Linked DNA regions of Homo sapiens. The protein of the gene in region 4 purifies or fractionates together with the protein of the main gene of each other region. This does not show direct contact. Each region holds a gene or a part of one and is shown on either strand. Other genes may lie near its edges. The genes, in order: SPECC1L, RAPGEF4, ELAVL1, RIMS1, MAP1B, TMOD2 and IGF2BP2.

Region 1 (4,156 bases), on a different chromosome or scaffold from region 4:
CTGGTTTTAGCTGTAATACCAGCCATATCCTCTCACAGGCAGGAAAACAGAAACAAAATACAAGTGAGAGAAAGTGACATTATCTTAAGAATACTTTTCACACTATTCCAATAAAAGGAAACCATTCCCAAGTTTTAAAAATATCAGTTTTAAAAAAAAGCTAATAACACACCAAACCAAACCAGTAACCCAGGTTCTCAGTAAACACTGTGCATGGCAGCTGCCTAATGCTGTCCGGAACATTTTAATCTATTTAAACAATACCTTAGCAATGGCATCCTGTAATCGATTGGCATCATTTCGGGTATGAGCCAGATCTTCCTGCAAGCTACTAGCCAAAGTCTCTGCTTTTTCTTTGTCCAGCCTGACACTCTCCAGGAGGTCCTGAATATCAGATTTGTCTCCAGAGTTATGGATAGAATACAGCTCTGCCACTTTCTGCTTTTCATTCTCCAGCTGAGCCTTCAGGCGATTCATCTCTATCTGGTCACTGGCCACTGTGGCTTTGTATTCCTCTAACGTGGCTGCCAAGGCTGCTTTTCCTTTCTGCTCAGACTCAATAATTCGCTCCATATGGTGACTGCGTTCTTTGAGTGCCCCTATCATTTCTTGAGCTTCCTTATTGTCTTGTTCTGCCATTTTCAAAGTATTGCTTAAATGCTGCTGGACACCAAGAAGCTGCTCCCGTTCAAAACGGGCATTCTCAGCGAGGTCCATGTAACGTTGCTCTAATTCCATATAGCGCCCACTTTTTACATCTTCATCTATGACATAAGAAATGTGATGCTCATCTAGAAGAGAGCGGAAGTATTCAATCTGTCGACTAAAGTGTTCCAACTTATCGCTCTGCTGACATAAAGACTCCATCAGAATAACCTTCTCTTCTCCAAGCCTTTCGTTTTCACTATTCAGTTCCTGGGTAATCTGCTGTAAATCAGCTAGCTCTTGCAGGGTTGCCTGGAGTTCCTCACTTGTACTGTGTTGGTTCTCTTCCATCTGGTGTATCCGTTCAGTCAGGCAAGCCACGGACACTTCACTGGCATTCCCGCTGCTCCCCTTCCGGGAGCGCTCTATGCTGGGGATGCCTTCCGACTCTGAGGAGGATGGTGCATCCAGCGCATCATCGCTCGATGTGAGGGGCTGGTAGACCTCACTGCACTCACTGTCTAAATTGTCCATGGAGTTACTGTGCTGATGGTCCATTAGTGTATTTTCATCCTGACTCAAGAGATCCTCCACTGAGCCAGGGGCAGAGCCTTCCACTGAAGAAGTCAGAGTTCCTCCTCCATCGCTCTGGTTACCAGGGGTGATTTCTGGGCTCAGGGACTGATAGCCAAACAGTTTTTCAGAATTGTCTAACCTCTGCTCTAGGGAAAAGCCCAATGCATTCAACCTGTCCTTTAACATTCTGTTTTCATTTTTCAGCTGGTTGAGTTCTTCACGGATGGCAGTATTCTGTTCCTGCAACTGCAATAAAGTGGACTCCACATCAGTCGGCTGGTGAGCCATAATAGTTTCCTTCTCAGATTTTTCATCACCCTCAGAATGATCCTCATTAATGCCCAGCTGGGCACGCATGTCTCGCAGTTCATTTCTCAAATGTAAAATTTCTACGTCTTTGGTTTTTGCCAGCGTGAGAAGATCCTTCACTTTGGCCTCCAAAGCAGCTCTGTCACTGATCTGATTGTCTGACTTAGACTTGCTCATACGAACGTCACATTCTGTAGCAGTTCGACTGCGGGAACGTTTGGCCAATGCCATGTCATTAGCTCCCTGACCTGCAGAAGGTAGTTTTTTGCTCTGGTTTAATCGGGTACGTTCACGTAATCTTTCTCTAGTAGAACTGGATTCTTTATTACCTGTAGAAGTGCTCCGCTTGGTTGAAGAAGCTGTGCCTATGTGTTTAATACAAAAAATGTAAGGCAAAAATGTCAGCAATAAAAGGCTACATAGAATACACAGTTCCTGCCCCAGGTGTAATGAGATGAAATCCAGGATCTACACAATGATTTAGATCTACAATAATCTTGCCTTAGAGTCTGTTAAAGTTCAATTTCTTCAAAACCAGAAGATCATTCATCTTTTAATTATCAAGGAGAAATAAGTTATACACTTTGTTTTACATGTTTTTAAAAGAGTAAATTTTATGGAATGTGAATTACATTTCTACAAAGCTGTTATTTAAATGATATACATTAACTTGAATCCAGAAGTGGGGTTTTAACCAGTTGGCCAGAGGCATAATATTCTAGGGCAAGACAGGTGAAGATGACTCCAGGATTAGCCAGTCGGTGGTAAACTAACTGTACACAGATAGTGAAGGGAGATCATAGGTGGGCAAGAAGGGAAAAGCAGTCTCTGGGAAAACCAAAAATCTAAGCTACCTACTAGAAACACAAAAATTTTACTCTGACCAAAGTAAATGCAAAATAGTTTTAACACCATAAAATGCCACATAAATAATAACAATTATAACAATAGCTAACACATACCTAGCACTTGGTTATACAAATACATTAACACTTCACATACATTAACTTATATAAGCCTCATTAAAGACGTGAGGTAGGTGCTATTATCACCTTGTTTTACAGATGAAGAAACTCAGACACAGATGTTAAATAATTTGCCAACATGTCACAGGTAATAAATAGATGAGCCAAAATTGAAACCCAGGCAGTCTGGTTCCAGATTTTGCACCTTAACCAGTATGTTATACTGTCTCTCTAAATGTAAAAAACAACGAAGCACTAATGTTAAATAATGATGATGCGTCAATCAAATCTACGTGAATCACATGATTACTTAACTACTAAAATTTTAAACCTGTGAAAACTGACACAATCATTTGTTTAATACAAAAAGAACAGGAAGTTTTTTTTGTTCGTTTTTTTGGTTTTTTTTGAGATGGAGTCTCTCTTGACCATCACCCAGGCTATAGTGCAGTGGAGCGATTTCGGCTCACTGCAACCTCTGACTCCCAGGTTCAAGCGATTCTCCTTCCTAGGCCTCCCAAGTAGCTGGGATTACAGGAGCGTGCCACCATGCCTGGCTAATTTTTTTGTATTTTTAGTAGAGATAGGGTTTCACCATGTTGGCCAGGCTGGTCTCAAACTCCTGACCTCAAATGATCTGCCCGCGTCGGTCTCCCAGCGTGCTGGGATTACAGGCGTGAGCCACTGAATTTACAGGCGTGAGCCACCGCACTTACAGGCGTGAGCCACCGCACCTGGCCAGGAATATGTTTAAATACCTGTAAATACTTAAGAAATAACAAATTTTTATGTTAAAAAATAAGATCCACATCTAATCAATAAGTATTTTTAAAGACCCTGCTGGTTCATTAGGTGGTGGGATCCAGGCTGTAGAGGTAACAGGGAGCAAATGATCTCCACAGATAGAGGGAGATAGCCACTAACAGAACAGGTATACAGGAGGATGCGGAATTCAGGCTGGCAAAAAGACAGACAACGAAAGGAAGCAGAAGTGAACATGGCACACAGAAAGGAAAAGTACAGTCACACAGTTAACGGAAGCTGCTGGGGAATGTTCATATAGAGTCCCAAAAGATAGGCAGAATTCAGTGAGTCACACTAAGTCAATAAATGATCCTGAGTAGGAAAGAAATGTAAGGAAAAGTACATTTTATGAAAATTAATCTAGAGGATACTGATATGGTTTGGCTGTGTCCCCACCCAAATCTCATCTTGAACTGTAGTTCCCATAATCCCTATGTGTTTCGGGAGGGACCTGTTGGGAGGTAATTTAATCATGGAAGCAGTTACCCTCACGCTGTTCTCGTGATAGTGAGTTCTCATGACAGCCGATGGTAAGGGGCTTCCCCTTTGCTTGGCTCTCATTCTCCTCCTTCCTGCCACTATGTGGAGAAGAATGTGCCTGCTACCCCTTCCACCATAATTCTAAGTTTCCAGAGGCCTCCCCATCTCTGTGGACCTGTGAGTAAATTAAACCTCTTTTCTTTATGAATTACTCAGTCTGGGGCAGTTCTTTACAGCAGCATGAGAATGGACTAATACAGATTCTAAGTGGAATACATAAGGAAGAAAGCAGAGCAGCAGAGGAGGAATGTGGGCAGGTAGATCAATGAGGTAAAAGAGGTCCCACATTCAGGGGCGGCAGTAAGAACAGAGAAGAG
Region 2 (4,156 bases), on a different chromosome or scaffold from region 4:
GAAAAAACAATATTTATAGTGGATTTTCAGTAAGAAACACAATCCATCTATTTCTAAAATATACTACAATCTTTCCTTGGATTAAATCAGATCACCTGAAAACTGTATATTATATTGGCCCCCTCGCAGAATTACCCTTTCTTAATGTTTCTTTAGAATTATGCTGTATTTAAAGAGCCTGTGAAACTCACTGCTGAATCACTGTTGGAATGTTGTTGAGGATATTGTTCACCACATTGCAAAGTATATTCTTGAGGCTGAGGGAGTCAAGAGGTCCCAGTATCAGCTTGATTAATTGTTCTTCTCCAGCAGAAATAGTTTAAGTTTACAAATACTGAATAAAAAAATACCTGTGCTTCCTTGTGTTGAAAATGAGAAATTGAAGCTGAAATGCTTATATTAGTAAAGAAGAAAGGTTAAAATTAACCAACTAAGTTTCCACTTTAAGAAGCCAGAAAAAGAAGAATAAGTTAAACCCAAAGTAAGGAGAAAAAAGGAAAAAAAAATGAGCAAAAATCAATAAATTTCTCAAAGAAAACAGTAAATCAACTAAAAGTTGTTTCTTTTAAAATATTAACAAAATTGGGAAGCTCCTAGTAAGAATGAATTAAAAAAAAAAGACACAAATTACCAATATGGGATACAAAGGACAGAACAACACTACATATCCTAATGGCATTAAAAGGATTATAAGGAATACTATGAACAACTCTATGTCAATAAATTTGATAACTTAGATGAAATGGACAAACTCCTTGAAATAACTATAAAAACTGACATGAAAAGAAAATCTGAACAGTCCTCTATTACAGTTTGAATTTGTCATTAAAAAGCTTTTCATATAGAAAACTCCTGGCCCAGATGACATCTATAAGACATTTGTAAAATAAATAGCATTGATCTTATATAAGTTCATTTAAAAATAGAGGGAAAAAATAGGAAAAAAGGAAATGTTTCTTAATTCACTTGATTAAGCCAGAATAATCCTGATACTAAAATAAGAAAAGAAAGTTATAGGCTAATATCCCTCATGAATTGACATGAAAGTAGCATTAATGAAATATTAGTAAGTTGAATAAAGTAATATATAAAAAGTATAATGCATGTTGACAAAGTAGTATCTATTCTAGGAAGGCAAGGTTGGCTTAACATTTGAAATTCAGACAATGTAAATTCACTATATTTACAGAATAAAACAGAAAAATAATATAATCATCTCAATAATTTCAGAAAAGGGAATTTGCTAAAAAAAAACAACTACATGAAAGACAACTAATGTGGCAAAATAGCAAACTATTTTTTATAAGATCATAACCAAAACAAGAGCATCCATTCTCACCCCTTCTATTCAATTTTGTCCTGGCATTCCTGGCAAATGCAATAAGGCAAGAAAAATAAATAATAGAAGACATAAAAATCAGAAAGAATAAGTAAAACTACCAGTATTCACATTCAAGATTGTCTACAGGGAAAATCCCAATGAATCTATAAAGTAACTACTAGAACCAAATAACTTGCCCAAAATTACACCATCAATAAAATTAAAACTGGGGTTTGAGCCTATACAGTCTGACTCCTAAATTTTTAACCTCTACACTACATTTTCTCTCTAGAGATGACCACGCAACGTTTGCATTAGCTCACACACCTCAACATAGCCATTACTGTAGGCACTGGGAATCTCATTTGAAGATGTGAAAACAAAGATTCAAAAAGATTAATAACTTGGCCAAGATCACATAGCTAGAGGGTAGAGGTGACAGAATTTGAATCCAGGTCTGGCTGATCCTAAGACAAAGCTGATTTGACTATATCATGTTTTCCAGACTGGAAACAGAAAACGGGGAGATCCAGATGCTAAGGCCCTGAAATAAAAGTGGAATAAAAGTCAAGACAATTAGTGACTGGTTAGATGTGGAAAAGGACATAGGAAAGGGAAAATGCAGATAACTTCAAAGTTCTGAGAATGAGGAAGTCATGACATCATAAATAAAATAGTAAAGCAAGAAGGAGAAACAAATGGGGAGCAGGGCTAAAAAAGATGAGGTCAACTTTAGACAAGTATCAATCTGTTAGGTTAGAGATCATTTTGATGGCAAATGATAGAACACCAAACAAAGAATGCTTTAGAGAAATAGGGCTTTTTTCTTCACAAAACAAAAATCTGAAGGTGGGTAACTACTGATCTGGGTTCAGCAGGTGGACAAAGTCAGAACTGGGGGCTCTGTGTTTCTCTGGGCACTTGCTCCTGGGATTACAAGATGGCTGCCACAGGCCCGGGCCTCGGGTAGTAACTCCAGGCAGAAAGAAGAGAGGAAGGGGAAATCAAATACACGGGTAAAGCAAGAGCTTCCCTGGAAGCCTCCTGTAGACTTCTGCTATGTCTCATTGGCCAGACAGTGCCACATGGACACCTCACCTGAAGGAAGATTGGGAAAATAACTATGTTGTTTTTCTAGCCTCTATAGCAGAGGTAGGTGAAGGAAAACAATGTCTGCCCCACAAAATATTAATGGGATATTCATGTGGGAATATCCAACAGACAAAAATACATCTGGTCTAGAAGATAAGCCACAGATACAGAGTTTAAGGAATCTGAGCAGTTACAGCAAAGGAAACAGATAGTTGCGCCAAGAAAGAGCTGGCATGGAGAGAAAAGAGAGTAGTGGCAGCACTTTGTGTTTCTTCTGGGGCAGGGGAAGCAAGAGGGTGCACACGGATGCAGCTGAGTCAACACACCAGGATTGTCCGCCTCCGCTCGTCAGCCAGATTGTTTTCTGTCAGATGTTCAGCTGGATCTCTCGCTGTCTCCCTCCCCACCCAGTTCTTTCCATCCTCTTTCTCTTTCCTCAGTCTCTCAGTACTCCTAGGGCAGTCTCTCCCTCATCTGTGACGTGAAAGTACTGGAGGAAAAACCCACTCTCATTGACCACTGTTGAGGATGCACAAACGTGATTTTATTCTGACTGAAGAAAAACTAGCTGCATGGGGTGTGAGGAGGTGGTGCAGGACAATAAGCAGCTACGATGAGAGGGCCATAAAATCTTCTAAGCTCATGGGAAATTCCAACAAAAGGTATCTGCCAGTCCCACCTCACAGGAGGGGCCAGAAATCCATTTGAGAGAACTCCAACTAAGACAAAGAGGCTGGATTTGCTTTGCTAAGCACCACTTTTCCTCTGAAGACTCTTTCCAGCTCCCAGGCTGCATGCAGGAGACCAGGCAGCAGGGTCAAGGGTGTGGATTGAGCACACCAATCCTACATGTATCCCCAGTCTGAGGGAGTCCAGGTCTGGCTAAACTTTCCTTTCCTAATAGATTAAAGCAAGTAAAATCAGCACAACAGAATTTAACCCTAATTACATATGAGGTTGTATTGTTCTCAAATTACTCCAAATATATATGTCATGTGCTCCCATGTATTTGAGGCCACAGTGAAATGTCTCCCAATAAATTGCAAATAGATAATTCCCAAGCATTAAACTTTAAAAACAATATATTGCTAACATTATGAAAAGAGATCACTTGACATTATATACCTCATTATGGAAATATATAACACTTCTGTGATGCATTCTTACCAAAAAGTCAAACTCTAGACCCAAATACTAATTTACAGGAAATACAGGGGACAAAGGAACATGTTTTAAAAAACTGCATGGAGGTACAATGAAAATTCAGACTGAAAAAAACAACAACAACCCAGTTTCTTCAAGAAATGTATTACAAGGAAGAAAAAGAGAGAAAGAGAGAACCCAGACCTATAGACATATCAACTAAATGCAACTTATTTGGCTCTTGATACAAACAAACTGCAAAAAAGAAAGTTATGAGGTAAATGGGGACATTTGAACACTGACTGAATAATTGATTATATTAGAGAACTAACGTCAAGTTGTTTAATGTGTGTGGTATTGTTTTCTTTATAAAAAGTCACTACCTTTTAGAGACATATACTAAAATATTTACAGATGAAATACATGGGATTTGCTTGAAAATAATCCTGGGGGGAGTGGGGAGCGCGTGAAGGTATAAACAAAACAAGGTTGGCTGTAAGTTGATGATGTTGGAGCCAGGGAAGGGGTGGCACAGATCATACTGGCTGGGCACAGTGGCTTAAGCCTATAGTCCCAGCACTTTGGGAGGCCAAGGTGGGA
Region 3 (4,156 bases), on a different chromosome or scaffold from region 4:
TAATCATGAGAAACTCCACGTGTCTGTTACACCATCTGTGGCCACGAGATTTTAGAATAGATCACTGGCTCAAAAACAAACAAACAGACAAAAACATTTGCTGGAAGCTGATCCAAACAGACCACAAGGGTTAACACTGAAGAATTAAAATGCACATTGAAGCTTGCTCAAAATGTAATTCAAGCATTTCCCTTCTTTCTTTCTCTTTTTTCCTTTACCTTTCCTTCTCCTCGCCCTTTCTCTAAGAGTTAGGCATCTACTTTGCTTTTTCCCTCATTCTGCTTTCATGGACGGTGAGATGGACAATGGCTGTCCCAGGCTTACTGTCCACAGTGTGGTATCCTCTAGGTCTGGGAAAAGTGGACCTCCTGAAACACACATCATGGCCTGTGGTACAAATCTGGCCCATTGCCTGTTGTTATAAATAAAGTTTTATTGGAATACAGCTTGTCTCATTTGTTTATGTATTGTCTGTCTATAGATAGTTTTGTACTACAATAACACAGTTAAGTAGTAGCAACCGTATGGCCAAAAAAGCTGAGAATATTTACCATCTGGCTCTTCACACAAAAAAAATCTGCCGACCTCTGTTTTAAAATGTAAAAACATAAAATTTCTTGGAGAAAAATCTTTGTGGCATTGGGCTGGGGAAAGATTTCTCAGACACAACACCAAAAGCCCACTTCGTTAAAAAAAAAAAAAAATGGATAAACTGGATATCATCAAAATTTGAAACTTTTGCTCTGTGAAAGATACTGCTAGGAGAATTAAAATCCACCAACTGGAGTAAACATTTGCAAAAGGGACTTGTAGTCAGAACACTTTTTTTTTTTTTTGAGTCAAAGTCTCACTCCACTGCCCAGGCTGAAGTGCAATGCCATAATCATAGCTCACTGCAGCCACAAACTCTTGGGTTCAAGCAATCCTCCTGCCTCAGCCTTCTGGCTAATTTTTTATTTTTTGTCGAGATAGGGTCTCACTATGTTGCCCACGCTGGTCTTGAATTCCTGGTGTCAAGTGATCCTCCCATCTTGGCCTCTCAAAGTATTAGAATTATAGGCGTAAGCCACCTCACCCAACCCAGAACCCTTTTTTTTTTTTTTTTGAAATGGAGTCTTGCTCTGTCACCCAGGCTGGAGTGCAGTGGCATGATCTCCGCTCACTGCAAGCTCCACCTCCCGGGTTCATGCCATTCTCCTGCCTCAGCCTCCCAAGTAGCTGGGACTACAGGCGCCCGCCACCATGCCCAGCTAATTTTTTGTATTTTTAGTAGAGACGGGGTTTCACCGTGTTAGCCAGGATGGTCTCCATCTCCTGACCTCGTGATCTGCCCATCTGCCCACCTCGGCCTCCCAAAGTGCTGGGATTACAGGCGTGAGCCACCACGCCTGGCCCAGAACACTTTTTTTTAAGCTCTCAAAACAGAAGCAGGCTAGTGTGCTGGCTCATGCCTGGAATTCCAGCACTTTGGGAGGCCGAGGTGGGTGGATCACCTGAGGTCAGGAGTTTGAGACCAGTCCGGCCAACATGGTGAAACCCCATCTCTACAAAAATACAACAAAAAAAAAATTAGCAAGGCGTGGTGGTGGGCATCTGTAATCTCAGTTACTGGGGAGGCTGAGGCAGGAGAATCGCTTGAACCTGGGAGGCAGAGGTTGCAATGAGCCGAGATGGCGCCACTGTACTCCAAACTGGGCGATAGGGCCAGACTCCATCTCCAAAAACCAAAAACAACATAATGAGCAAACAACCTGGTTTCAAAAATGGCAAAAGATTTGAACAGATACTATACCAAAGAATATATATGGATGGCAGACAGGCACATGAAAAGATGCTCAACATCATTAGTCAAATTAAAACCACATCGAGACACCGCTACCCACTTATTAGAATGGCTAAAGCAAAATAAAACAAAAAACAACCAACAGCAACAAAACAGACAATGTCAAGTGCTGGCAGGGATGTGGAGAAGCCAGAATATTCATGCACTGCTGGTGGGAATGCAAAAATGTGAAATGTGACAGCCACTTTGGAAAACAGATTGGCAGTTTCTTATGGTGAAATATACACTTAGCATGGGATCCAGCAATCCTACTCCTAGTATTAAGGCAATAGAAAGGAAAATCTATATTCACACAAAAATCTGTATATAAATGTGCAGAGCGGCATTATTCATAATCATCCAAAACTACAACAACCCAAATATTCTTCAAGCCATTCATGGATAAACTGGGATACACCATACAACAGAATACCACCTGGCAATAAAAGGTATCACCAATTCATGCTACTTGTGTGAATCTCAAACACATCTTGCCACATCATTTCTGTGCCTTCCTGGAAAAGGCAAAACCATAGGGATGGATCTGTGGTCGCTGGGGTTAGGGAGTGAGGGGAAAAGTCGATTACACAGGGACAGGAGGAGGGAGTATTTCTGTTTGTGGGAGAGCGAACTTTCCAATCTTTATTATGGTGGTAATCAAACAACTTTATCCGTTTGTCAAAACTCAGAGAACTCTACTCGAAAAAATGAATTTTCCTACATGCAAATTTAAAAATAAATTGTCTGAGTGTGGCGACTCATGCCTTTAATCCCAGCGCTTTCAGAGGCCAAGGTGGGAGGACTGCTTAAGCCTGGAGTTCAAGACCAGCCTGGGCAGCACAGAGAGATGCCATCATTACAAAAAAAAAAAAAATTAAAAATTACCCAGGAATGGTGATGCACACCTGTATGCAATCCCAGCTAATCGGGGGGCTCAGCTGGGAGGATCACTAGAGCCTGGGAGGTCAATACTGCAGTTAGCTATGATTGTGCCACTGCAGTCCAGCGTGGGCGACAGAGTGAGATCCTGCCTCAAAAACAACAACAAAACCACAATAAAAATAAATTTTAAAAGGTTTAAAAAGAGAACTTCTGCTTTGCGGCCCTGTTCCTCCTGACACTCTGAGTCAAGGCTGAGCAGCCCCTGCAGGTCAAGTTCTTGGTCAACTAGTAACACGGGAGAAACCAACAACCTGCCCTGCAAAGCAGTTTCATGACGTTTCTGGGCCCCCACCCCACTCTCTGGAGGCCCTTCCCTTGACCTTCTCCAAATCTGCATCATCAATCCTGGGCCAAATCAGCTTCTATCCCACAAGCTCCAACCACAACTGGGCCTTGTCACCACTCAATTATCACTGACTCCCAAGTCGTAGCCACTTCTGTCTCTCGAGGTGCAAGGCCTGCACTGTCCTGCAATCAAGATGCTCACCCCTCTGGTATTCCCTGTCAGTGGTCACCACCCATTGAGGCTCGGCGGTCACACGATGATGCTCACGGTCAGGCATGCCATTAATAAGTGGCAGGGCCAGGCCTCAAGTTGTCATGACAATGCAACTGTCAAACTGGCAAGGCCCTTCACAATCGGACCCAGGTGGTTCTCCAGCCTCAGTCGCCACCCTCCCTTCCCGCTCACTCCAGCTTCTTGCCAATATGCTACAGGCCTCTGCTTTGGCTGTTCCCTCTGCAGGGCACTAGTGTCCTCTCCTTCACTTCCCAGCTCATTTTTTAAAATTAGTATTTTTTTTTAAAGAGATGGGGGTCTCTCTTTGTTGCCCAGGCTGGTCTTGAACTCCCAAGCTCAAGTGATCCTCCTACTTTGGCCTCCCAAAGTGCTGGAATTGCAGGTGTGAGCCACCATGCCTGGCCTCCCAGCTCACTTCTATTTTTACTTATTTTTCTTTTGAGAAAGGGTCTTGCTCTGCTGCCAAACTAGAGTGCAGTGGCATAATCACGGCTCACTGCAGCCTCAAACTGCCTCAGTTTCCCAAGTAGCTGGGACTACTGGTGTGTGCCACCATACCTGGCTGATTTTTAAATTTTTTTAGAGACAGGGGTCTCATTTTGTTGCCCATGCTGGCTTCAAGTCATCCTCCCACCTGGGCCTCCCAAAGTGCTGGGATTATAGGTGAGAGCCACTACACCAGGCTGGCTCATCTTTAAAAAGCTACCTTCCTGGCCTGGCGTGGTGGCTTATGCCTGTAATCCCAGCAATGTGGGAGGCCGAGGTAGGCGGATCACCTGAGGTCAGGAGTTTGAGACCAGCATGGCCAACATAGTGAAACCCTGTCTATACTGAAAATACAAAAATTAGCTGGGCGTGATGGTGCATGCCTG
Region 4 (4,156 bases):
CTTTTGTTTTTCCATGTGGGGCCTGAGAAGTACTACTTCCACATATTCCTCGTAATAGAAGTTAAATTCTTGAAAACGGCTTTGCTCTCCTAGCAAAATCTTGCCTTTTGCTTACAGGGTGAAAGAACTATTACCTCTCTCTAGGAGGTTCACTTCTAGACCTGGATGAAGCCTGCTTCTGTTCAGGCCCCAAGGCTTGCTGCGAGGGCTCAGCCCCTTTGCTCCTGTCTGGTGGTGCGCTGGGAGGAGCAGCATCCTGGGAGGAGGCAGCTGCTGTGCTTAGGGGTGTCTGAGACCGCGATCGCTCTTGGAGTCGTGCTTTCTTTTCTCTTGGTACCTCAGAGCCAGCACCTGTAGCTGTATCACTCAGGGTTCCATCCTGACTTGTCTGCTGAGGGCCACTTCCAAAGAACCATGCCCCAGATTTGGTTAAGATTTCTTGTTGCTTTCGACATAAATTGCATACCCACATAACCTATTTGAAGAAGAAAGAACAATATAAATTTTTATGCCCTCTTGGAAATAATTTTTCAGTATCTTAAAATATATTTAAGAAAAAAAGAACAGTATTCATTTTCATATTTATCCTTGCAAATTTCTTGTGAAAATGGTCCTCCCACAAGTCACAGTCAAATATATGAATGCCTAGACAGGGACTTGTCTGAGACTAGAGAGCCTCTCAGCAGCCAGAGTAGAGGTTTTTTCTCAGCATTTCTGATTTGATTATTCTGAATTTCCTTTTACCATATATCTGTCATATTTTTTATAATTGACTCTGGAGTGTTAGCAAAAATGTTCTAAGCAAGGTAGTTAACTGATTAGAAAAATGTTACCAGGAAAAAAAAAGAAAAATGTTACCAGGAACTACAGAATCAGTACGTAAATACATAAACCTCAGTACTTGCAAGTATTTTTAAAAAGTCTGTCTTTTCAAAAATCACCCACAATTAAAGGCAATATTAAAAATATTCACATAGAAGAAACATACAAAGTAAGCACACAAAAAAGGTCAATGTGTATATTTTCTCTAGTTTCTTAGTGATAAACTAACCTTAAGCTTATTTATGCTATAAAATATAATTTTCCATGCACATATTTACTAAAGCAATAAATGTGACTCTGAGTTTATTCATATGTGACCACTCCAATGTAATGTTCCCCAAGGAGAGCTATTGGGGAACCATCATTTAGCAACATATCCACTGATAAATTATAAGATGTAGCACCACTTAAAATAAACTATATGTCTGTTCTCCATTTGATGACCTTTAAAATGAATGTAATAATGAGGACGATTATCATAATAAAAAATAATAATAGCAGCAATGACTAGCTGTCACAGGGCAAAGATAGGTGCTAACAGCTCCATGAGCTGTCTTTTCAAATATCCTCAGTACCTCTGTTTCTTTGTGCTGTGACTTTACATCGCTGCCTCAGTTACATGCCTCCAAAAGCACTTCAGGTGTTTTGTGTTTGTTTCTACTTCAGAAACTACCTCCACAGGAAAAACTAATTACCAAACTCTAGGCTTCCTTTTCACAAATACTGACTCAATCAACATGTACTCAAAAATATTGCATCAGGATGAATAAATCGTAGAAACATTAACTGATAAGTAATAGAAAATAGTAAAAGAAGCATTGTTTAGTAGGTCAAATGAAGAAAATGAACTACTGAAAATATTCAGATAAATGGGGAAAAACTGTAACTGTAGCCATAGAATAAGATGAAGCTAAAATAAGAATAAGAAAAAGACAGGAAAAAAGTAATACACTTTTTTAAAAGGAAAATACTGCAGGTGAATTAAGAACTGCTTTCCAGGAAAGAAAACTCAAATGAATTATAATATAGGAAAAATTAAGACTGAAGAGAAATACTTGCTATAAAAAATTTAAAATTCATGAAGGTTAATTGATTTATTTAGACTTTCCCAGTCATAAAATGAAGTGTACTAGGTTCAAAAAAGCAGTTAGGTATAATGTCTACACAAAGTATTATAACCAATATTACGGAATTCTCATCTACTAAGATGTCAAACAAGATGAACAATTCATTGCATAAACCTATATCAAAATAAGGATTTTATGGAAAGTAACTTCAATTTAAGTGCTAGCCAAATAAGGGTATATTTTACAAAATCTATTACTGAGTAGGTCCCTCAGAAGTCCTGATTGTTTGAACATGGACATATTAAGGGTAACATTAAAAGGTGCAGTACTCCAGGGCCAGGACCTTCATGAACAGTCAGTGACACTGAGTCTCTTCTGCCCAGAACCCTGAGTGGGGACAGGACGTGTGTGGTGGGAAGGTTTTGGTTGGTTGGTTTGTTTTTTGTCTCTTTAGCTGACAGACCATAATAAGAAAGTTTGAAATCATGTAATTCAACAAGACTGGTATGAAATTTTGACTATTTTACATCAAATAAGAAGACGTTAAATTTGTATTTCTCAGACTAATAGTAAGCAACTTATTATCATCATTTAAAGTAGGTTCTTTTCAGCCAGGTGTGGTGGCTGACACCTGTAATCCCAGCACTTTGGGAGGCTGAGGGGAGCAGATCTTCTGAGGTCAGGAGTTCGAGATCAGTCAGGCCAACATGGTGAAATCCCGTCTCTACTAAAAATACAAAACTTAGCCGGGCATGGTGGTGCATGCCTATAATCCCAGCTACTTGGGAGGCTGAGGCAGAAGAATCACTTGAACCCGGAAGGCAGAGGTTTCAGTGAGCTGAGATCCCGCCACTGTTCTCCAGCCTGGACGATAGAGCGAGACTCCATCTCAAAATAAATAATAAGAAATAAAATAAAATCAAGTAGGTTCTTTTCTACAGAAATATCAAGGTATACTTAGGATAAATATGCAGTTTTTAAAAAACCAGAAAACACAAATTTACAATTACAAAGTTTCTAAAATTGAATAAAGCTAAATAAAGAAGCAGAAAGGAGCACAATAATACTGATGAAGGGTAAAGGATACTCTTCATTTTACATTTGAATATTCTCTAGAAATTATTATCACAATCTTATTTTGATTGCTTCACATTTTTAAACGTTACAAAAAATGGGTCAATGAGAACTAACTGCCAGATTTGGGCATGTTCCAAATTTTGAGTATGTGCAGAACTGCTACCAGATCAATTAAAAGAAACACAATTTATTATTATTAAATAAGTTGAATTTTACAATTTAATTTCATTTCCAGTTTATTCAAAAGGTTACAATTAGTGACTATGTCAAAACAGCATAGGCATTTTAAATTCTATTCTTAAAATACTTTGTATTCATTTAAGTCTGTGATGCTTTGTTAATTTTTTTGTTTTTAACATTTAGTAAAATACTGTATAATTCCAAACTTTTTCTATGTCTTATTTCCTTGTACACCACAACATTTTTAAATTTGTATTTTTAAATTAACTATAAGTGTAGTCAATCCATCCTCCAAACTGAAAGTAAAATTAACCATGGCAATGTTAAAATATTTATTTTTATCAAAATATCACCTCCCAGTCTCTATTTTCAGTTCTACAAATTAATCATACCACAAATTTTACAAATAAAAAATAAATTGCTCATATAAGTTATAAAGAAAAATATATAAGATTACAATAGAATATTGTCATACATTTCAACACAGTTAATACCAAACATTGCAGACCTCTACAGTACATTTTTTGAAGTCAGTATTAAGTATTATATTTGCCTGAAGCTATAGATAATACAAGAGTGCTGTAGGGAGTCATTTTTAACAGATTTTTTTTTAGAAAAGAGGATAAGACGTAACTTTGCCTACAAAAAAATGCTATTTATTTAAAGCACACAAACACACCTTTTAGAAATTGCACTATGCAGGATTATACCCTGATTAAATACCCTGGGATGTGTTCCAAACTAATCTAAACTAAAGTAGGCCTGTGCAATAACTTATCTTAACAATTTACAGATGTTAAGCAATCACACACAAACTCAATTCAAATACTATCGTGAAGTTACATGACTTTTGAAACACCATGCCACATATCAGAAAATATGCAGGACTGAAAATTGTATTCTGACCTTTTGCTGTAACTGCATTTTTAATTGTCTTTTCCTCTTAATTCTTAAGAAGTACAATAAACTATTTTATAAAACCCATAGGAATTTTTTACCCAGAGAAATAA
Region 5 (4,156 bases), on a different chromosome or scaffold from region 4:
ATCATTTTTGTTGGACATTAGTCATGTATACAGACTTGAAGGAATAAATAGCAGTGTGTTACTTAAATACACACTGGATCCTTAAGGCATATTTGTATTTACCCTTGGTTATATTGTATTCAGTCTTCCTATCCTGTAAAGAATCAAGGTGGATTATACATAGACATTACAAAAAAAAAAGATTCTGGAAACTCAGTTCACTGCACATCTAAAATATCTTTAGATTACACACCACAGACCTTTTCAACCAGGAGGAATATTTTCAAATAGATGTGTGTCCACTAAATACAGGCAGAAATTTCTCATATGATCAATGGGAAGAATTCAGATGTGGAAGAGTTAACGTGCTTAAGGAAAGGTCAAATTATAAGGGAGAATTTTATGGCTCTTCCTGGAAACATTAATAGCCTCAGTTTGCATTTGTGCTAATGGAGTATTTGAATTTTAACAAGAAAGGCATGTTGAGATTTCGCAGATCTTTTTAGTGCAGAAATGATAAATGGGTTCTTTTTGTTTCACAGAGAGCTTGACAGGTTGAGAGGTCTGAATTCATTAGAATATTTTACTTCAATGTATACACTATATACTAGTCTAGTGCAAAAAAATCGAGTTCCTGTCTGAGCTGCTTAATTGGTATTGTTGACTGAATTCTCCTTGTTCCAGGTCTGAGCTCTACTTTGTCTTCTACCCTGTCAAGCTGGGTCAATAAGTTAATAATGAGACATATGCATTTAAATTAAATTCATACAATTTTTCTGTCTTTGTTCTAAGTAATGTCTAAATTGGTACATTATTTGAATGACTTCATCCAGGGTTATCTGCAGACTTGCTCTTACATTGTTACTTGCCATTTTCCCTTGGCTTCAGTTAACTTGTCATGGCACACACAATTAAATGTTTGCTTTATATTTTCATACATATTTTATTTTTGACATATTTGTAATTTAGCAATAGAAAAAGTACTAAATGATAAATCCACTTAGTAATTTCTAAATTATACTAGTAAACGGCTGATAAAAATATTTCTCATTTTTACACTCCCAATGAAACTAAAAATGTAGGGTTCTTTTTTCAAGAGAGCAATTTCCACCCAAATTGTTTCTTAGCAATGCACAACCACTACTACCACTTATAAAATAAAGGTTATGTTGGATTTGCCAGCTATTTTAGTTGGAAAGGAAAATTTTGGAATCAGGCCACTTTCCATACCAATTTTAGAAATAAAATAATTTGTAATTACTTTGTATCTCCTGCTGGATAATATTGGTAAAGGCAAAGAGTAGTTGTTAATGAAGGTTCATATTGCATTTAGTAGGTTTATGTAGTTCCCCTTTGTGCCTAACAAGGAGCCAACAGTGAGCCCTCTAAAGTTTACAGGACAGAAAAATATCTCTTTGGCCCTTCCCATATTCTCCCCTCTCTGAATCTGGCTGGAGGGCATCCTGGGGTGTTGGTGAAGAGGTTCTAAAGAGGCTTTCAGAAGCAAGTCATCCTGGTCTCTGTTGGGGAGCAGGGAAGCCCTCTTTCTAATTTTCACCCCAATATACACCAAGTCAAGCTCTTCCTGGAGGCTTTGTTTCCCCAGCATTCTAAGACTGTACCCCTTCTGGGCTTACCCAGGTGGGGGCAGAATAACTCCAGGCAGTTGGAGGCAGTGAACCCCATTCTTTCAATGTCTGGAGCCAAAAGGCATCCGTCATCTCTGAGAACAATCTGGGCCTGCTCTGTGGCTATTGCCCAGCCCTGAAAGTGAGCTCCTTGGGACCAGGGAGCAACAAAAGATCTTTCCTTCTCAGTTCTCTGACCCCAGGTGGTAGCAGTGCACACAAGGGAGGCTGACATGCACATGATATACACAGATGAGAAAAGGAGAAAAGAATAGGTTATGGGGCAGGGAGGCAGGGAGGGGTCATTAAAGAACAAGTCAGGGTGAAAAATGAGGAGAAGTCAGGTACTCTTGGTGTGTACAGGCTAGATTGTTCCAAGTTTTCCAATCATGTAAGCATTTTGCAGGGTTGTTTAATGAAACCAACAATTTAAAAAAGCACCTCCCATTTAAAAGCTAAAATTCATATTTCTAAAGGTGACAGTGGATTGAAGAAAGCAAAATGAAATGACCATGCATTGTATGTTGATGGCACATGGGTTCTATCTGACAGTTATTTGGGCCTTTGGCAAGTTGATTTTCCTTTATGGGCTTTAGTTGCTCCCTCTGAAAAACAGGCTTTTGGATATTTTTTCCAAGTACCTAAATCATTAACCTAGAATCATAAGATTATATTTGTAAAACTATGCTAAAAAGTGGTCTGAAATCAGATTGAAATCATAAACTAAATAAATGAACTAAAGGAAATGCTACATTTAGGAATGCTTTATTTCTCAGAGGAAAAAATTCTTATTTTTTCCCTTGAACTCATCTTTAATTTGCTTTTTTTCTTTTTTTAAAGCCAGCAACTTGATGTTCATAACATATGTATGTAATGACGATAATATCTTACATACAGAGCTCATAGTTTCAAAGCATTGATAATAAATAATTTAGGTCTGAGATAACATCTTACAACACAAGCAAATGAGAAGTGACATAATTATTTGCTTGTCTAAAAAGTTATAACTTATTTTTTTAAAGTAAGCCCTTAGAGAAGGTGAACAATTTAATGACCTTAAATTTGGGGACTGCCTTGTGTTTCAGCATGGATCACAGAGCTGTCGTAGATAATACCAATTAAGCAGTGCAAGCAGAAATCCATCTGTCTTCGACTTTGAAAAGTATAGGCAAATATAGTAAATTTAAGACTCTCTAACATTTAATTCTCACCACATATGGTATTGGTTTCTTATTTCCCCTGTTAAAAGAAAAGGAAAACTAAACCCCAAATCTTTCCTGGGTTTTAAATTCTCTTACCATCTTAGACTGAAGGACATTCAGTTAAGTGACATCAGAATGTAACAATGTAATCAGCTAAACTTTTATCTAAAAATGCAGAGCAGTAGATGTTACATTCATCTATCTTTTCACCAACAAATCTTGCTGATTCCCAGTGTTAACTAAAGGAAAAGTTATAATCTAACGGTAATTGAAAACATCCAACAGACACTTAATATTCTTTATATGTTTTAGTTCCTTAAAAAAAAAATGAAACAATGAAAACGTTCACAAGGCTCTAGAATTCAGTTTGCAAGACACGGATGTATGTCCTCTATGTATTAAAATAAAACCAAGAAGCAGGGTTTTGCTGAAAATGAGAACCACTAGCTAAATCCATGCTGGGGGCTAATTAGGGAGGAGAAAAAGGAGGTGCCAAAGAGTAGTAGTTGGTGGTAGCGAAAACGATTTGGAATAAAGTCCTGCATAACTAAATAAATGAAGCTAGCCTAGTCCGAGGAAACACTATTGTTCCAAACTCTGGAGGAGACATGTCCAAAGCTTTCATTATGCTTTCCGAATATAGTTGAGAAAGCAAGAGGGACCATCTCTCTTCCCTGGTTTCAAGAGGCATTTACGAAGCATCCACATTGGGACGTTCCAGGCCTGTTGATTTACTGCATTACCACCATGTCTCTACAGATTTATAGATTATTTTCTAGGCTTCCCAGAGAGCCCTCAGTAATCGGATGGCAAGAATCCAAGTCGCCAGGGTCTCCAAACCCAGAATCTCAGTTAAGGCAGGAGGGGAAATAGGAAGAAAGAGTAACAGATGCGGAACTGCCTTCCCAGCCTGCAACACACAATCATCAGAGCTGGCCCCCCTGGAGCAGCTCCATCTTGCTTCACACAACAAGGCCCAAAGGCACCAAGCAACAACAGCAGTGGCCTCTGGAGGAGGCCCAGCTGAGACCTGGCGGCTGAAGCAGCAGCTTGTCGTGCACAGGAAAACAGGACCAGCCTGCTCTGTTGCTAAGTCATCTCAGACTGTCTGAAAAGCTATGGGAGCAGGATTTTCACTTAGCGCTGGAAGGGCCTGCATCTTGAGCTGCAGCCAAGACCCCAGAACCCAGGAGAGCCATCTTCAGAGGAAAAGCAGCATCTGCTACGGTGTGTAAAGAAACGGCTCTGCTCACTCACTTGGTTGATTCTTAATGGGATCAATACAGTCATTTCGGAGTTCCATGCAAAAACCTGACCAAATTAGGGAATTAAAAAATCAGGAAGCCA
Region 6 (3,789 bases), on a different chromosome or scaffold from region 4:
GCCGATTCAAGAGGCAGTGGAAAACAGTGATTTGATAATAAAACTGATCTCTCACATTTGTACGGCGCTTTCCAGTTTATATAGTGTTTTTATCCAGTTATCTGATTATATTCTTACCACAACTCTGTGAGGTAGTTAGTGAAGTATTATTCCCATTTTATAGCTGAAGAACCTTAGGCTTGAGAGACCAAGCGGTTTGCCCAAAGTTACCCAGCTAAGGAAGTGTGGAGCCAAGTGTCCAGGTTTCTTGACTCCAAATCCAGTGCTCTTCCCCCTATATAGTCTATAATTGGCAGGCAATTGAATGAATTGCCCATGATCATATACCTGCTAAGTGTTGGTGATGGGATTAGGTTTCAGTCTCCAAATCTGTTAGTACGGTGCCCCTTCACCATACCAACTAACTGGGCCAATGTGCTCAGAATGTCTACCATGGAAGAGATCAGAAGAACATCTAGTTAGTTAACTACTCTTTTCTATGTCTAGGTCATCAGTTCTCTCCTTCATCCTCCCCCAAGTCAACAATGTATCCCAACTGGCAAAGCCTCTAAAACATGCACTATTCCTAGAACAGAACCCAGAGTCAGGTTACAAATTTAAACTTGCAACTCCTCTTCCATTGGTCTACTGATTATTCAGTCATTGCTATTACAGACAGATGGGAAAGAGATAAGCTGAGCAAATCTCAGTTCTGCCATTAAACAAATGTAAACCTTTAATTTCCATCATCCTTCCCCACCTCGGTCAGCAATTTGACTTCTTAACTCCTGAACTACAAAGTAAAATCCAATCTGATCTAGGGTTAGGGAGCAATAAAGCAGTGAATAATATCCCTGAAGTTCTTGGCGCTTTTCTCTGGCTAGTATATTACAACAGGAGGCCCTATCGTCTGATTTTCATCCAGTGGGCTCAGCTGGATGCTTCCAAGCACTCTCACACCTTTCCTTTGTGTGCATCTCAGTACTTTAGCTTTAGGATTGGTTGAGTAGCAGGGATATTTGAGATGAAAGCAATAAGAGGAGGTAAAGGGAAGCTGCAAGTGGAAGGCAGAGCTAGGACCTTTCCTCTTAGTTCTCTGCTCGTTAAAATGAAAACAGCTATTATTGCATCATTAGTGGAAGAGGGGAAGGAAGCTTCAGGATCATGACTTAAAACCTGACTCCAGAAACACTTCTACTGAATACAGGTAACATAGCACAGAACCTAGTGTTCTCAACTTCCCGCCCTCTGCCCATTTTTGCTGATGCTATAAATACTTGAATTAAATATGGGATCTTCTTTGTAAAAAAGGCACTCAGTCTACTCCCCAATCTCAGAAACACATATAAAATTATATTAGTCCAGAATTTTTATGCTTCCTCTGTCTTCTTCGTAGTGCCTAGGAGGGGGCTGAGTACATCATATCTGTGAAGAAGGAAATAGCTGCACATGTGTTTGTAAATTCCAAAGGGCTATCTTACACTTAAAGCATGCTGATGCTTAATATTGGTTTTAAGAATTTTCAGTTTGAGCATCTGAAATGTTCTCATGGCAGCTATTCGGAGGACATTGGTTTCCCTAATGCTGGTGCCCTGTCAGGGGCCATGTTTCTGTTGGAAGAGAAGCACCTGCTCTTTGGGCTGGTGTGCCAGTCTTCCCTTAGGGAAATTGGTTTGAGGAGTACAGGCACTGGGATGATTTCTGAGTTTTTAAATGAATGGGCTTTTATTGTAAGATGAACTGCATGCCCCTCCAGGTTGGTAATCTTCTAACCTGGGCCTGCAGCAACTTGGACAGGGACGAGGGAAGCAGGGCTGGGAGACAGCATCTCCCTCCAGTCAATTTTCCAGATGAAGCCAAATACCCCATTATGGTATTTGATGATCTTTATGTACAAAATATTTATATACAATGTGCCCTACAAAGATGGAAGAAAGGGGCTTCATCATGTTGATGAGGATGGAATGTTAAATACATTAGGCAAATGGATAGATTTGGTGCTAGAACAACTAAATGATTTCTAGGCTTCTAATATTTATTTCCTAAGAGTCATCCTCTACATAGCTATAAAATGTGGTGGTTGGTAACATAAACTGCAAAGCCTAGGGAGTAATTTCATATTTAACCTGGGCCTGCAGCAATTCTAAAAAGGACAAGGGAAGAGGACTGGGGAGAGAGCATCTCCCTTCAATCAGTTGTCCAGATGTAGCCAAATACCTAGTTAGATATCTGACAGTACACACACACATACACACACGACACTTATTTACATTATACCCTCCAAAGATGAAAGAAACGAAGTCATTTAATCATGCTGATGAGGATGAAAGAGCTTCCAGTTATACACTATAAGCAGATGGGGAGCTGCAGTGCTGAACTAATCATATGATTTCTAGACTTCTAAGGTTTTTCTCCTAAATGTCATCTACATGTGCCATAATAGATGTTGGTGATACAAGCCCACAAGTCCAGGTGAGTGATTTTACACTTAAAGTGGACCTGCACAACTCTAAAAGGGGGAGGGAGATAGGCCTGGGGAGAAGTTATCTCCCTTCAGTCAGTTATCCAGATATTGCCAAATATCTCAACACAGTATCTGGCAGAACAAATACATAGAAAAATATTTTATATACATTATGCCCCATCACAATGGATAGCAAAGGATTAACTGTGCCCATGATCATGAAAGAGCTACCACTTCCACACTTTGGGCAGAGAGGGAGATGAAGTCCTAGGCTAATTAAATGATGGATAGGCTCCTCAAGTGTATGTTTTTCTAAGGGTTATCATCAATATGTGCACACTCATGGAAATGCCACCTTTCAAGCCACTTTAAAAACACAGGTAATAAGAAAACAAACTGATTAGTAAAAAACATTTGATTTCATAGACTCTGTTGCATGCAACCCAACTATTTCATAAGGTAAAAACAGTGCTATATTTTTGATAATGTCCCATTATCTTGCTTTAATACTATCAACAACTGCTTGTACAAAAGAAACAGCCATGATTGAATTCTGATTCTTTTTTTCTTGCTTTCTGCCAGAGTTTGCCAAGAACTGCTTTAGCCCCCAGCCCACAGCACTGTGGGGCTGCAAGGAATGCTCTATAGGGTCCAGGATTTTAAGAGTCAAGGCAAGAATGAGAGTAAGAAAAAAAAAAAAAAAAAGGAAAAAGGCTTACTTGGAGAGGCAGGTCAGGGACTCAGCACTTAAACAGGTTTGTAACAAATCCAAAGAGGAGAAAAGACATCTAAGAGAAATGTTCTTCCCTTCGGCAACATGATAAGCGAAACATATGTATAAAAAAATGTATAATTTCACCCAGTGGTGTGCTGATGAATGTTTATCAACCAGCAATCTGGAGAGGGAGAAAACCCCAATTTCTTACATATTGCTAATTTCTGTGGTGTAAATATTTCTACCATGGCCAATTTCAAGCCACTGTAGTAACAAGAAGGTAGTGAACATGGAGTTGAGAGGATACGTTCAGTAGCATACTGTTTGGTAATATTTCTACATACATACCTACTAGATGTAAATAATCTAAGAGGTTAGAAAATAGTAAAATGTAAGATTTTTGAGTACAGTATTTGTTACTTCTGTCCTTAATATAATTCATTCAGTTGTAAGTGCACATCATTTAATTTTAAATAATGGCTGTATTGAACAACCAGTTTGCAAAATTCTTGAAAATATAACAGTTGGCAAGCCTGTACAAGTTGACTCCAACACATCACACCTAAATGGGTGAAAGGGAAGGAAAAATCAGACTGAAAACCATAAACATTATTTACTATGTTTTTTAAAT
Region 7 (4,156 bases), on a different chromosome or scaffold from region 4:
ACAGTGTCACAGGTATGGTGCCCTCTATTCCCGATCATGTCAAGACACAGCTCCCATCTTGGTTTTGATGCCAAGGCTCAACATTTTTCAAGTCTCTACACAATCCACAAATATCCCGGTGTGAATGTCCTGGAGCTCCACTGACATGTCAAAGATGGCAGGAACACCCTGGAGCTCTACCAATATGTCAAAGGTGGCTCAGATGCCGTGGAGCTCCATGGGTATGTCAAAGGTGGCACATATCCAGCTCAAAGATCTGCATCTTTTTAGAAAACATTTAAAAACACAGAACTCAATGGAATTCAAATATAAAAACAAATAAATTTAAACAGAAATAAGCCCAAATCTGCTTACATTTTTGCTTCTTCTCTTGTTGCATATGTGACGTTGACAACGGCGGTTTCTGTGTCTGTGTTGACTAGGGAAAAGGCAAAAACTACACTGTCATAGGAAAAAGTGCTGTCACCCTCTGGCTTAATGTAAACAGACAAACTTTAGAGAAAAATGCATAAAACCCTCATCACACTGGCTCCACAGTTATCTGCATCTCTACGTTTATTCATCTGAGTTCACAGTAATTTGTAATCAATTGTATATAACACGTTTGTAATCAATCGTATGAACAACTCAGAACTATATTTTCCACATATTTTATAAACACTTTTATATGAGTATTTTGTATCAGTACATTTTCTTTGTATTTTTCATTTTTAATGTCTATATAAAATTGCAGTGAGTCAAATGTACCATGACTTGCCTAACCATTCCCCAATTGTTGGTAAGTAGGCTGTTCCCACTATTTGCTAGTCTAAATAGTGTTGCTAAAAATCACCTTTGTTGCAAACATCACTGGATTGTGTGTTCTTCTGAATTACTTCTTTAGGCTAAAATCACAGAAGAAAAGTAATGCAGTAAAAGAACATGATGCTTTTTAATGCATATTTTCAGACTGGTCTCCTAGAAGTTTGTATCAATTTATTACATCACTATCAAGGTATGAGTTTTAATTATAATTTGCATTAATTCTTAAATAATTGGATATACATATAAAACAATAAGAAAATATTTTAATTTAAATTATTCATTCACTGACAAGGTTGAACCATCACTATTTTTGTTTCCCTTTGACTGAACTCTTTGACTGTGTGGGTTAAATCTAATAAATAAAACTGACAATTCTAATTACTTGGCTAAAAGAGAAAGTATAAACTCTATGATTGGCTAATAAGGGATTACTCTTGTGAGTTGTCTTGTCTTAGATCATAATTTCTTGCCTCTTCTTCTATAGTTAGAAATTAAAAATAAATTCAAATGCCAGAGAAAACTTTCTCAATCCAAGCCAGTAAACTTAAACACCAAAAATATATGTTTCCCAAAACAAAGGTGACTAGATCAATTCTTCCCTTTAAAAGATTTAAGCTGTTGGGAGTTTGGAGTTAACAACAACATTAAGTTAAAGATAATTCAAGAAAATTATGATAAACCTGCTGTCCAAAGTAATAATAAAACTCTATAATATACGATTCTTTACACTGGACCCATGCTTGAGCTTCAAGAATTCTATAAACCCCTCCAAAATGATTCAAACTTGTAGAAATGTGAATTTTTCTTGTTATTTTACAAGATTTGCAAAGGGACCTGAGACCCCGAAAAGCTTAAGGACTACTGTTAAAAATACTGTTTGTTAAATAACTTTAAAGCAGCTGCAGCCTTTATGGGTTGCAGGGAGTTGTATGTAATGCTCAGAAAGAGCTGCCACTGAGAATTACATGTAATAAACCCGAGCCCAGCTCTGGCCTTGGCCTGGAGTGTTCATAGCACGCTTTAATTCACACTTAACCCACAGAAGTCCTCACAGTGCAAAACAGGGGAGGTGTAGCACATTACTGTCCTCTCTCAGTGCTGACACAGAGAATGCTAAAAAGGTTTCATATTTGCTGCTTTCTAGTGCTACAGATAAGGCTGTAGACTCCCAGAAAGGGCTGGGTTTGAACCTCCTGAATAAAGCTATCCATTAGGATTCTCAGATTCTGTGCTCACTTCTTAGTCATATGCTCTGTTCTTCAAAGATGTTAGTCTTCAGGAAATCAGGCAGTTCTTTGATTCTGTGACGAGCTAAGCTCCATTCAAATAATTTATTTCACTGGGCATGAAAGTTCTATAAAGTTGCCTAAAACTCTACTGAAAATATTTTCCTGCTGAATCAGGAATCACTCATGTAACAGGACAAAACAATAGCCCAACAGTTCTATCCTGTTGTTGTTAGGCAGCTGGAAACTGGGGGGTCTCCAGCACACAGCTGCCCTAGGACCTATAAACTGCCCCAGGGACCTGGAATATATTTTTCTTGCGTAGCATTGTCCTCAGTTTATAATATAATCTTAACTAGTAACTTTTACAGGTTCATGTCTGCAAGACCATCTTGCCTACAACACCCAATCATTAGAATGTCTTCTTTTCTGCCGGGCACGGTGGCTCACACCTGTGATCCCAGCACTCTGGGAGGCCAAGGTGGGTGGATCACTTGAGGCCGGGAGTTTGATGCCAGCCTGGCCAACACGGTGAAACCCTGTCTCTACTAAAACTACAAAAATTAGCCAGGCATGGTGGCGCTCACCTATAATCCCAGCTACTAGGGAGGCTGAGGCACAAGAATTGCTTGAACCCGGGAGGTGGAGGTTGCAGGGAGTAGAGATCATGCTCCTGCACTCCAGCCTGGGCGACAGAGTGAGACTCCGCCTCAAAAAAAAAAGCAGGGGGAGTCTTCTTTCCATGTCGAAGGAAATAAGAACTAAGAAATAGAATCCTTATAAATCATGTCTTCTTTCTGAGCTCTTTCCCTTCACCTTTGGGCATGGGCAGGCAGCAGCATAAACTGAATAATATCTGAATAATTACTGCTTTAAAACTATTAATTAAACTAGCAGAATAGATCATATACAAGAAAATGGGTTGTTTGCAATTTTTCCTAAGTGAACTTGAACAATCCCTTCAGCTTACGTATGACTCTGCTGTCTACAAATGCCTTATACAGGTTCTCTTTGGGTAACACAACTATCCAGTGACAGAGGAAGGGTAGAAATTTCTCTCTCAATTTGACACTTGTGCATACTGAGTCAGTGAGGTTATTTGACTTTTTCAAGGGTTCGCAGTCAGTAAATGACTGAATTTACATTCTGTTTTCTAGGTCAAGGCAAAAATAATCTTTATCATGTATTATTGCCTGTCACATCAGGAGTTTGGAATCTACTTTTCTGGGACTCTTAAAGAGCTAGATAAGATATCAGCTTTAGGTACCACTGTTTTCCTTTTAAAAATCATAGTATTTCATGCTTTAGAAGATAAAAAAGAGGTTGGCAGGAAGAAAAGTATCTTCTGGGCATTTGCAGCACTGCTCCTGAGACAGGTGTTCTCAAACTTGAGTGTACACAAAAATCACTTCAGGGTTTTTGTTTGTTTGTTTTGAGACAAAGTCTCACTCTGTCACCCAGGCTGGAGTTCAGTGGTGTAATCTCGGTTCACTGCAACCACCTCCCAGGCTCAAGCGATTCTCGTGCCTCAGCCTTCCAAGTAGCTGGGATTACAGGCATGCGTCACCATACCTGGCTAATTTTGTATTTTTAGTAGAGATGGGGTTTTGCCATGTTGGCCAGGCTGGTCTTGAACTCCTGGCCTCATGTGATCTGCCCACCTGGGCGTCACAAAGTGCTGGGATTACAGGTATGAGCCACCACACCTGGCCTCGGGTGCTTTTTTAAATATAGATTCACGAGCTCTTCCCTGCAAGACTCTTACTCAGCAGGTCTACAGTAAGCCCTAGGAGTCTGCAATTCACAAGCACTTCAAGGGATTATTGGTATAGGAGTCCTATTCATTGGGTAACACTCAGTCCAAGACATTAGGGATCTGTTTTTCTTATCCAGGGAAAGGAAAGTAGCAACCGTGTAAATCCAATTACTCCTAAGTGAATTAAGCTTACCCTAGCCTGACAGCGTTTGTCAGTGCTTGAGCACACTGCACAGTATATGAGAAACAGCTTGTAAATAATATTCCTCGAAAAGGCAAACTACATAGACATACATAGAAAGAGACAGATATCTCTCACATCTATGTAAGATACATCTTACATAGATGTAAATACATATACTCTAGGAAG

Evidence for each region.
Region 1: the proteins of RIMS1 (region 4) and SPECC1L purify together in Homo sapiens (co-immunoprecipitation; one large-scale study listed by IntAct). This does not show direct contact.
Region 2: the proteins of RIMS1 (region 4) and RAPGEF4 purify together in Homo sapiens (co-immunoprecipitation; one large-scale study listed by IntAct). This does not show direct contact.
Region 3: the proteins of RIMS1 (region 4) and ELAVL1 purify together in Homo sapiens (co-immunoprecipitation; one large-scale study listed by IntAct). This does not show direct contact.
Region 5: the proteins of RIMS1 (region 4) and MAP1B purify together in Homo sapiens (co-immunoprecipitation; one large-scale study listed by IntAct). This does not show direct contact.
Region 6: the proteins of RIMS1 (region 4) and TMOD2 purify together in Homo sapiens (co-immunoprecipitation; one large-scale study listed by IntAct). This does not show direct contact.
Region 7: the proteins of RIMS1 (region 4) and IGF2BP2 purify together in Homo sapiens (co-immunoprecipitation; one large-scale study listed by IntAct). This does not show direct contact.

What each region holds. Positions count from the first base shown.
Region 1 is NC_000022.11:24,319,027-24,323,182, reverse strand, and holds part of SPECC1L (cytospin-A), read right to left. Parts: intron 1,896-4,156; coding exon 265-1,895; intron 1-264. UniProt on the Homo sapiens protein: Involved in cytokinesis and spindle organization. May play a role in actin cytoskeleton organization and microtubule stabilization and hence required for proper cell adhesion and migration.
Region 2 is NC_000002.12:172,741,916-172,746,071, reverse strand, and holds part of RAPGEF4 (rap guanine nucleotide exchange factor 4), read right to left. Parts: intron 1-4,156.
Region 3 is NC_000019.10:7,995,095-7,999,250, forward strand, and holds part of ELAVL1 (ELAV-like protein 1), read right to left. Parts: intron 1-4,156. UniProt on the Homo sapiens protein: RNA-binding protein that binds to the 3'-UTR region of mRNAs and increases their stability.
Region 4 is NC_000006.12:72,175,894-72,180,049, reverse strand, and holds part of RIMS1 (regulating synaptic membrane exocytosis protein 1), read right to left. Parts: intron 476-4,156; coding exon 135-475; intron 1-134. UniProt on the Homo sapiens protein: Rab effector involved in exocytosis. May act as scaffold protein that regulates neurotransmitter release at the active zone.
Region 5 is NC_000005.10:72,110,241-72,114,396, reverse strand, and holds part of MAP1B (microtubule-associated protein 1B), read right to left. Parts: exon of another isoform or gene 910-4,156; intron 1-909. UniProt on the Homo sapiens protein: Facilitates tyrosination of alpha-tubulin in neuronal microtubules. Phosphorylated MAP1B is required for proper microtubule dynamics and plays a role in the cytoskeletal changes that accompany neuronal differentiation and neurite extension.
Region 6 is NC_000015.10:51,810,110-51,813,898, reverse strand, and holds part of TMOD2 (tropomodulin-2), read right to left. Parts: 3' UTR 1-3,789. UniProt on the Homo sapiens protein: Blocks the elongation and depolymerization of the actin filaments at the pointed end. The Tmod/TM complex contributes to the formation of the short actin protofilament, which in turn defines the geometry of the membrane skeleton.
Region 7 is NC_000003.12:185,692,345-185,696,500, forward strand, and holds part of IGF2BP2 (insulin-like growth factor 2 mRNA-binding protein 2), read right to left. Parts: intron 885-4,156; coding exon of another isoform or gene 833-884; intron 437-832; coding exon of another isoform or gene 419-436; coding exon 355-418; intron 1-354.